Regions from separate parts of the Homo sapiens genome. Here region 1 is linked to region 2. The links come from fine-mapping of genetic effects on gene expression. Tissue or cell type: whole blood. Region 2 holds a variant in brackets; the other region holds the start of a gene. All regions are shown on one strand. Distances are between the middles of the regions. Region 1 holds the start of LINC02012 (long intergenic non-protein coding RNA 2012). Region 2 has its middle 13 kb from the start of BDH1.

Region 1 (5,372 bases), 60 kb after region 2:
TGGAGACCTACTGCAGCAGTGGCTCCACAGACACGTCCCCTGTCATCGATGCTGTCACACACGCCCTGACCGCCACCACCCCCTACACCCGCTACCACCCCATGGACTACTACTGGTGGCTGCGAATGCAGATCATGACCCACTTGCCTGGAGCCATCTCCGACATGATCTACATCCGCTGAAGAGTCTCGCTGTGGCCTCTGTCAGGGATCCCTGGTGGAAGGGGAGGGGAGGGAGGAACCCATATAGTCAACTCTTGATTATCCACGTGTGGATTATCCACCATGCCAGGAAGACCCATAACTGGTTTTAACACTAACTAGAGGGAATGACTTCTTTGCATAGTGAGTGACTTGGGCCTTCACAAACAGGGTGTGGAGTGGCAGGCAGAGGCCTCTAAATCTCAGGGCAAACATGGTGAATCTATCTCTCCGGAGATAATTTCATACAGAGATTTTAAGAAAACATCTTTATATTAAAAACAGATCTCATTTGATCCTTAAGCCAGTCTCATGAATGAAAAGGACAGGTTTTTTTCTTTTGTAAATGAAGCATTTGCAGCTTAAAGAGGATGCATGAAATAACCCTTTTATCGCTTATAAATAGTGCCAGTTATGTGTTCCTGCCACGGCTGTGGAAATACTTCACATTTGCATTCCAGGACTGTTTTGGATCCATTTGCCCGAGAATCTTCTGACTAACTCTGTGTCCTCATCTGGGCAGCACACACCAAGTGCCCACTGGTACCTCTGCATGTCCATGGTGCTGTGTGACTGGCCAGCCAGCAGCCAGTGACTCAGAGCTGGCTGTATGGAGGGGGTGGGAATGTTTCTGGAGATTTTTGTTTTTCCAGACACAGTCTTGCTCAGTCCCCTAGGCTGGAGTGCAATGGCACCATCTCCGCTCACTGCAACCTCCGCCTCCCTGGTTCAAGCGGTTCTCCTGCCTCAGCCTTCCAAGTAGCTGGGGTTATAGGCACCCACCACCATGCCGGGCTAATTTTTGTATTTTTAGTAGAGATGGGGTTTCACCATGTTGGCTAGGCTGGTCCCGAACTCCCGACTTCAAGTGATCCGCCTGCCTTGGCCTCCCAAAGTGCTGGGATTACAGGCATGAGATTTTTACTTGAGATTTTTCCATCCTCTTTTAGGACTCAGGATAGACTTGTGTGGAGGTGCTCTCTGGCTAAGGGGATAAGTTGTTACTGGTTTGGGTCTGCTTGGTTTTGCCTTGGGTGGGGCCGGTGTCGATGGGGCAGGCTTGGCACGAGCAGTGGTGCCATGGCAGGGCACTGTGGCATCTCCCCTAGCAGTGGATTTGGGGTCCCTGCTTGCCTCACGTGGTGCTTACACACATGTACACACACACACACACACACACACACACACACACCTTACACACATGTACACACACACACACACACACACACACACACACACACACACACACACACACACACACACACACACACACACACCCCTGTTCTGCAGGGCTTCAGCGTGGCCTTCATTCCCGCCTCGCCTCGGCCTCTTTTCAATTAAGAAGTGATGCCACTTGAGGCAGGGTCTGCATGATCACTTCTTGGGTTTCAGTTTGAAAGCTGCCATCCCTGCGACTGCCCAGGGCCTGTATGTTGGGACCGAAGCCAAACACCACTGTCCTCCAGGGGGCTTTCGGCCCGGGGCAGGGTCCCCAGTGCCCGCCTTCGAATCAGACTCCGCGTTTCCGCCTCTCCCTGGGCGGACCTGCCGCTAGAGGGCGCTCCTCCTCCGCAGCCGGCGCCGGCCTCCAGCGCCCCAGACTCCCGCGCTGCCGCCCGAGCCTGAGGTTTCTCACGGCGTTCGGGATTCGCGCTTCGGAAACCGGGAACAAAGAAGCAAGCAGCACCCTTCAGAAACAGTGTTCTCGCTCTCCTAGCAGCTGGCCCGGGCCCGGAGGCTGGTGCCAGGAGAAGGCAGAAGAGCCCGGGCAGCCGGAGTGGGCTACGGGGTTCAGGCAGTGCCAAGGAAGAAGGGCCTCACAATGGGCAATTCAGCTGCCTCCCGGGCCGTTGTCCCCGCTGTCTTCAAACAGGGGTCCCCTGTCCCAGCTGCCCCAGGAGGAGGGGGGGAGGCAGGCAGGGCCGAAACCCTCCAGAGCCCAGAGGGGGACGCTTGGTGGCCGCTGCAGTTACATAACCATAGGATGCTTTTGTACCGTGGACCTTGTTCTAGCAGGATCCTTTCGGAATTGCACTTTTACATGTTGGGCGAATTTGTGTCCGTGCTGAAGTTTATTAAAGGAAAATAGATGGAGCCTTGGAGTTGCACGTGTGCGTCCCTGCCTGGGAACTAGAGGAAGGAGGGCCACATACTCTGGGTCCCCATCAGCAGACCCGAACGTCAGAGAAGCTGCATGTGCGTCTACTGGGATCTTCTGAGTAAGCTAGAACTGCTGGGCCGGCCTGTGCAGGTTGTTCTGGCTTTTAATCGTTTCCAGTGATTGAAAAGCCCAGGCTACCATCCCTCCAAATAACTCCAGTGCTAACTCAAACCTCATATTCACCATTCACTTTCCGGCAGCTTAGAACCTACCGGGGCGCAGGACGTAGTTTTCGTCTTTACCAGAGTGCGTGGCCGGGCGCGGTGGCTCACACCTGTCATCCCAGCATTTTGGGAGGCCCAGGCGGTCGGATCGCCTGAGGTCAGGAGTTCAAGACCAGCCTGGCCAACGTGGTGAAACCCTGTCTCTACTAAAAGCACAAAAATTAGCCAGGCGTGGTGGTGGGCGCCTGTAACCCCAGCTACTCGGGAGGGTGAGGCAGGGAGAATCGACTGAACCCAGAGGCAGAGGTTGTAGTGAGCCGAGATCATGCCACTGCACTCCAGCCTGGGCAACAGAGTGAGGCTCTGTCTCAAAAAACAAAACAACAACAACAAAACAAAAAAAGAGTGAGAGGACAAAACAGGTGTATATTCCCATTTTATAGATGACATAACTGAGGCCCAAAGAAGGAAAGTGACTCACTCAGTGTCACAGTAAATCCACGGCAGGACCAGGGCCAGAACAAAAGTCTCCTGAGTGGCACTCTTCACTATCACATAACACTGTGGCTCGCAACAGCCCTGGAAGCAAAGCCAGTTGGGGTCACCAGGCACCTAGACCCTCACTGCTTGTCTGCTGGCAGAGAGCCGCTCCTTCTTGTCAGAGTAAGTAGGAAGGAGGCCTTTGCCTGTGCGGACCTATGGTCTGGTGACTCCAGCCAGCACAAACCCATCCCCTGATGGTTGGAGGCTGGGCAAGGGCTTCTTGCAAGATGCGCCTGACAGTGCCTTGTTACAGAGCACCTGCTGTGCTTAGCATTCCACCCGGGGCCAAGAGGCTGTGTGAGCAGGTGACAGCCAGCCTGGCCCCGCCTGTCACAAGCTGCTAGGTCTGCACCCTTGCCACCCATGGCAGGGGGTCTGACAAAGACTCCCCATTTGTGAGGTCTGTTCACTGCCTGTATTTCGAACAGGGCCTGGCTCTGCAAACCTGTGCAAACTGTGTTGATATAGGAGCCGACATGAGCAAGCAGAGGCTCCCCTGGCTCAGGCAGCCCCAGGTTGGGTTGGCCAGACAGCAACCAGGCACAGGGGCCAAGTGCAGGTCCTGCTACCCAGCCACCACAGCTTCCTCTCACCTGATTCTCACAGCAACCCAGGCAGGATAGGCAGGGTGGGGTTATCTTATTTTGCAGAAACAGGCTTTCCCAAGTCTGTCACCAAGTGAGGGGTAGAGCTGGGTGTCCAGCCAGATCTAACCTCCAGCCCAGAGCTGGTGATGCGGAAAATCAGGGCAGATGGCAGCAGGATCTAAAATAGGGAGGGAAGAAGTCCTCAGTTACGTAACAGCGAGGAGACTCTCAGCCTACGCACAGTAGCAACCATGGGGTCCTGCCACTCGAGCCAGACCCTCCTTCCCTTCCCGTTTTGGGCTCTAAGTGCTGCCCCCTGTGAGAGAATGTGCTGGAGGAGCCCCCAGTATCCTTCCAGCGGGAAGTCGGCTCTGTCAAGGCCATTCCCGAGAGCAGGCTCTAGGAATTCAAAGACCAAGCAGGCAGAGCTGGATTCTGGAGCTGCCCTCAAAGGGCTTGAGGGTTATATGAGCGCCGTGCTTGAGAAGTTAGTGATGATTTCTGCTCAAAGAGACAGAGCAAGAGGGCTGAGGGGCTCTGGTGCTCTGGGGGAGATGAAACAACCCCACAGTATATGAGGCCTCTCTGGTGTGTGCGGGCACTAAGGAAGGGTGACTTGCGAGTGGCGCATTCGGAGGCACGGGGTGGGCAGCTGTTGAGCAAGGGACCAGGGCTGGGACAGGCTGCCAGGACCCCCACAACCCCAGGGGAGGAAAGGGGACTCAGCCATCATCATGCCTGACTCCCAGGCTCCCGGATGAGGAGCCTGCTAGCCAGGGCTTGAAGCCCTCCAGTGACAGGGGGTGCATTACTTCCTAAGAAGCCATTTCCTTGGTTCAGAAACGTTTATCCAAAGACTGAGCCGAAATCTACCACCTCACTTAATGTTTTTGGCACCTGGTTATGACCCAGACCTGCACAGAATAATTTAACTCTTCTGAAATAGACTTCCAGATATTTGGAAGTGGCCAAGTCAGGTTTAAGAGCTCAGGTCTCCCATTTGACAAGATTTCCATCTCCTCGCTGTCTGAACAGGTTTCAGCTGTGGTTATCCAATCCCTCATTCTTGATGACACACACCAGGCTGAATGGTCTTTAGAGTTCCCCTCAAGCCGCCAAGCGCTCTGAGACAGGTTTACTAGCTTTGGTGAGATGCTGACACTCCTCACATGCACGTGCCCCTCCCAACTACTCAAGTGAGTTCGTGGCAAATCTCTCATCTGATCTGCATAAACGGATTATATCTTAGGCGGTGCCATTGTCTGCATTTTACAAATAAGGAAACTGAGCCTCAGGGAGGTGAAGTCATTTGCCCAAAATCACAGAGCCAGGAAACGAGAGAGCCAAGATCCAGACCCCGCAAGATCCAGACCCCACAAGATCCAGACCCCGCAAGATCCAGACCCCTCAAGATATAGACCCTGCAAGATCCAGACCTCACAAGATCCAGACCCCACAAGATCCAGACCTCGGCTATCTGGCTTCTCTTTTTTTTGCGACAGAGTCTCAATCTGTCACCCAGGCTGGAGCGCAGTGGTGTGATCTCAGCTCACTGCAACCTCTGCCTCCCAGGTTCAAGCAATTCTCCTGCCTCAGCCTCCCGAGTAGCTGGGATCACAGGTGTGCGCCATGCCTGGCTAAATTTTTTTTTTTTTTTTTGTATTTTTAGTAGAGATGGGGTTTCGCTATGTTGGCCAAGCTGGTCTCGAACCCCTGA
Region 2 (5,372 bases):
CTTGTTCTCCCAAAGTGTTGAGATTACAGGCATGAACTACTATGCTTGGCCATCTTTCAAAGTTTATATGTGTATTCATCCATTTCCTTATTGCTGATAAAGGCATACCCAAGAATGGGTAATTTATAAAGAAAAAGAGGTTTAATGGACTCACAGTTCCACATGGCTGGAGAGGCCTCACAATTATGGCAGAAGGCAAAAGGCACATCTTACATGGTGGCAGGCAAGAGAGAGAACGAAAGCCAAGTGAAAGGGGTTTCCCCTTGTAAAACCATTAGATCTCATGAGACTTATTCACTAGCATGTGAAAACTACGGGGGGAACCACCTCAACAATTCAATTATCTCCCACTGGGTCCCTTCCACAACACATGGGAATTATGGTAGCTATAATTCAAGATGAGATTTGGGTGGGGACAGAGTCAAACCATATCATTCCACTCCTGGCCCCTTCCAAATCTCATGTCTTCACATTTCAAAACCAATCATGCCTTCCCAACAGTTTCCCAAAGTCTTCACTCATTTCAGCATTAACTCAAAAGTCCACAGTCCAAAGTCTTACCCGAGATAAGGCAAGTCTCTTCCACTTATGAGCCTAAAAAACAAAAAGCAAGTTAGTTACTTCCTAGATACAATGGAGGTACAGGCATTGGATAAATATACCCATTCCAAATGGGAGAAATGGGTCAAAACGAAGGGGCCAAAGGTTCCATGAAAGTCCAAAATCCAGCAGGGCAGCCAAATCTTAAAGCTCCTTTGACTCCATGTCTCACATCCAGGTCATGCTGATGCAAGAGGTGGGTTCCCATGGTCTTGGGCAGCTCTGCCCCTGTGGCTTTGCAGGGTACACCCTCCCTCCTGGCTGCTATCATGGGCTGGCATTGAGTGTCTGTGACTTTTCCAGGCACATGGTGCAAGCTGTCAGTGGACCTACCATTCTGGGGGCTGGAGGACGGTGGCCCTCCTCTCACAGCCGCACTAGGCAGTAACCTAGTGGGGACTTTGTGTGGAGGCTTCAACCCCACATTTCCCTTCTTCACTGCCCTAGCAGAGGTTCTCTGTGAGGGTCCCAGCCCTGCAATAAAATTCTGCCTGGACCTCCAGTTATTTCCATACCTCCTCTGAAATCTAGGTGGAGGTTCCCAATCCTCAATTCTTGACTTCTGTGCACCCACAGGCTCAACACCACATGGAAGCTGCCAAGTCTTAGAGTTTGCACCCTCTGAAGCCGCAGCCTGAGGTGTACCTTGGCACCTTTTAGCCATGGCTAGAGCAGCTGGGACGTAGGGTGCCAAGTCCCTAAGATGCACACAGCAGGGGGCCCCTGGGCCCAGGCCACGCAAACATTTTCTCCTTCTAGGCCTATAGGCCTGTGATGGGAGGGGGCTGCCACAAAGGTCTTTGACATACCCTGGAGACATTTTCTCTATCATCTTGGCAATCTGGCTCTTCATTACTTATGCAAATTTCTGCAGCCAGCTTGAATTTCTCCTCAGAAAATGCGTTTTTCTTTTGTATTGCGTCAGGCTGCAAATTTTCCAAACTTTTATGTTCTGTTTCCCTTTTAAAACTGAATGCTTTTAACAGCACCCAAGTCACACTTTGAATGCTTTGCTACTTAGAAATTTCTTCTGCCAGATATCCTAAACCATCTCACTCAAGTTCAAAGTTCCACAAATCTCTAGGGCAGGGGCAAAATGCTGCCAGTCTCTTTGCTAAAACATAACAAGAGTCACCTTTACTCCAGTTCCCAAGTGCCTCATCTCCATCTAAGACCACCTCAGCCTGGATTTCATTGTCCATATCATTGTCAGAATTTTGGCCAAAGCCATTTAACAAGTCTCTAGGAAGTTCCAAACTTTTTCACATTTTTCCTGTCTTCTTCTGAGCCCTCCAAACTGTTCTAACCTCTGCCTGTTACCCAGTTCCAAAGTTGCTTCCACATTTTCAGGTACCCTGACAGCAGTGCCCCACTCTACCAGTACCAATTTACTGTATTAGTCTGTTTTCTTGCTGCTGATAAAGGCATACCCAAGACTGAGTAATTTATAAAGAAAAAGAGGTTTAATGGACTCACAGTTCCACATGGCTGGGGAGGCCTCACAATCATGGCAGAAGGCAAAAGGCACGTCTTACATGGTGGCAGACAAGAGAGAGGATGAAAGCCAAGCAAAAGGGGTTTCCCCTTGTAAAACCATCAGTTTTTATTCACTACCAAGAGAGAAGTATGGGAGAAACTTATTCACTACCACGAGAAAAGTATGGGGGAAACTACCCTCATGATTCAATTTTCCCCCACCAGGTCCCTCCCACAACACATGGGAATTATGGGAGCTACAGTTCAAGATGATATTTGGGTAGGGACACAGCCAAAACATATCAATATAATCAACCAGAACCTATAACTTTTCCTCATTGAAGACATCAGAAATTGCCA[C/T]CTGTATTGTACTAATTGAATGAAATTTCTGTGTAACAAAGCCATTCCAGCTTCTGTTGGATTATCCACATGAATGATGCCCAGCTGATTATAAAAAATTCTGTACTCCATGCTGAGTTCCTGTAACTCTAGAAAAAGGAAAAAAAAAACTGTACTCCAAATAGCTACAGAAACTGGGATTTTAAAAATCCCTTTCTTCAAAGAAAGAACCTCAGAACAATTGGTGGTGTGCTTAACCCAAAGCATTTGGAGTAGGACAGACTTGGGTGGGATCTGTCTTTGCCACTTCCTGGTTGTATTGTTGTGGGAAAGTTATTTGAACCTGCTAACTGTCAATGTGTTCAGTTGCAAATGGGAATAATCTTAGGCTACTTTTAGAATTGTTGCAAAAGTAAGTGAAATAATGCATAGAGGGCACTTGTCACAGTGGCTGGTACATAGAAATGAACCATTTATTGCTAAATTGTAGTATTATTGCAAACAGGGAGCCTGCATTGATTTATGATTCCACTCTAAGAATATAGCACAATCAGTGAGATATTATAAGGACTCAATCAGTGCAAACTGAATGAATGAATAAATTGCATGGGTTGCTGTAGCTTAGGGCAGGATGGGCAGAGGTGTTTTTTTTTTTAATCAAATATCCTCATATTGTTCCCTCTTCCAAGATCCTAGTTACCTCAAAAGAACATTGCTTAAATTTACAGACAACCCATACCCATGCACAAAATGCTTGTGCTTAAACAAACACTCAATTAATGAATACGTAAGAGTTAAGTGATAGAAAGTGGGTGGGGATGCCTGATACTCTCCATCTTTTTCCCTTGAGGTCAAGCACTTGTTTTACTTGCTCATTCACTGCAAGGAAAAGGCAGCTCCTCCAGTTCTCATTCATCCACAGATTTCAGCATTACAGTCACGTTAAGATCAGCTGTCAAAGGCTCTTTTCAACACACTAGATTCTGAGCACCACAGCTTCGTTTTAGAAGCAGCATAGAATAATATACTGGGCTTCTTTCCTTTGCTGTCAATTCCAGAAAAAGCTACTCAATACCTATAAAATTCTACAGATTAAGGGTATGATTTCCAGCCAAAAAAAAAAAACCCACAAAACTTTAATAAAATTCAATTGCATCAAAACAAACAGAAGACTGTGGGGTTTGGGGCAGTAGACAGTGTTTTTATTCCCTATCGCCCAGCAGAACTCAGCAAAGCAGGCTGCACGCTGGCTCTGTGAGGACTTGGAGGTGGCTGCCTAAGGGCAGGATTTAACCTGCACTGTCCTGAATTAACACTGAGCACTTAATACTGAGGGCAGAGAAGACCAGGGGCATTCAGACCCCGGGCAGGGCCAGATCCAGCAAGGGAGGGGCTGGGAATGATTAAATTCAGCTGGTATTGGAGGAGAGTGTGAGCTAGCAGGCAAACAGACAGGAGAGAACACCATGATCTCTCAGGTCAGGGGCCTCTTTTAGGGTACTTCATTCTGACTGAGAATCTTTCAGGATACTACCTCTTCTACAAAGCCTATCCTGAACCCTTATTAGAACTCTGATGACATTTATTTGTCCCTCTTTTAGAAGACTTACAGGACTTCTAATGATTCATTTAGCTTACATACATGCTTCATTTCCCTCCATAAACCCCCAAAATCTCAGGTGCCTCATTTCCCTCCATGAACCCCCAAAATCTCAGACAGGTCTCTCAGTTAATTCAGAAAGTTTATTTTGCGAAGGTTGAGGATGTGCACCTGTAACACTGCCTCAAGCGGTCCTGACGACATGTGCCCAAGGTGGTCAGAGCACAGCTTGGTTTTATACATTTTAGAGAGACATGAGAAGCAATCAACATATGTAAAATGAACATTGGTTTGGCCCAGAAAGGTAGGACAACTGGAGGCAAAAGCAGGACAGGGAGGGGGCTTCCAGGTCACGGGTAGATGAGAGACAAACAATTGCACTCTTTTGAGTTTCTGATTAGCCTTTCCAAAGGAGGCAATTAGATATGCATTTTTCTCAGTGAGCAGAGGGATGACTTTGAACAGAACGGGAGGCAGGTTGGCCCTAAGCAGTTCCCAGCTTGACTCTTCCCTTAGCTTAGTGATTTTGGGACCCCAAGATTTATCTTCCTTTCACGTTTCCCTCCTTTTCTTTTTAAAATCTTTTGGAGAAAGCATTTTAGGAGAAAATGAGTCCCTCGTCCCAGGTTTCATCTGGTGTCTCATGGCTAGGATGGTTTATTCCTAGATAGGTAGGTCCCAAGTTATTAGGAAAGCTCATATTTAGAAGGTTGTGAAGTCTCATGTCCTTTGAAGAGAAAACAGGGGGAAGAAGGTAGAAAAACAACAACAAACAAAAGAACAATCCTGGAAAATCGATATAGGCCACATTACTCTGAAGTTTATACATCAGTAGGTAGGTATGAAAGTGGCTAATGTATGTAAATAAGGTTGCTATTATTTTCTTCTGAAGGTTGTCTAGCTTCAGTTTGTGGGGCTTTATGAAAGCACAGCTCAGTTTTCAGTGACTCCAAATTAGGAAAAATGGGAAAAGAAGAAGAAAAAAATTGAAAACAAAGTAACAAAAATTACTTTGAAGACTTGGAGCCAAGAAAAATTAGAATTCAGTTCAAACTTTAAAAAATAATAAAAATCAAGAAACGTTAGGCAAGACTAGAATCTAACAACTGCTGTACTATAGTTTTGAATCATAATGTTTCTCTCTTCAGTTTCCCGTTTGTACTAAAGAAAAATCATGGTAGGACTGGTTTGCTTTACTATACTTGGCCTAATTATTTGTATACAATGCAGCCAGAGTAATTATTTTTTTACATAGGCTTTTAAATTGGCTTTGATGGAACTTTGTTCCATAGAAGGAATCTCAGATAAGACATTTTTTTAAAGCTGAGCCCAGCTATGGATTTGTGCCATCAGGTAC

Evidence for each region. PIP is the estimated chance that this variant, and not a neighbour inherited with it, causes the effect. A credible set is the group of variants that fine-mapping cannot tell apart.
Region 1: it holds the start of LINC02012, and the variant in region 2 is the best candidate, but not a certain one, in a credible set for the expression of LINC02012 in whole blood (TOPMed, PIP 0.53).

The regions. Positions count from the first base shown.
Region 1 is chr3:197,506,705-197,512,076 of GRCh38, reverse strand. LINC02012 (long intergenic non-protein coding RNA 2012) reads left to right here and starts at 2,416. Exons shown (of 1, transcript NR_145451.1): 1 at 2,416-5,372. BDH1 (3-hydroxybutyrate dehydrogenase 1) reads left to right here. Exons shown (of 8, transcript NM_203314.3): 8 at 1-2,294. The coding sequence ends at 182. RefSeq lists an enhancer at 1-325 and a silencer at 3,585-3,879.
Region 2 is chr3:197,566,460-197,571,831 of GRCh38, reverse strand. It overlaps a transcript of BDH1 not described here. Among named protein-coding and RNA genes, the nearest start is that of BDH1, 13 kb to the right of the region's middle. The variant C/T (reference allele first, on the strand shown) is at 2,437.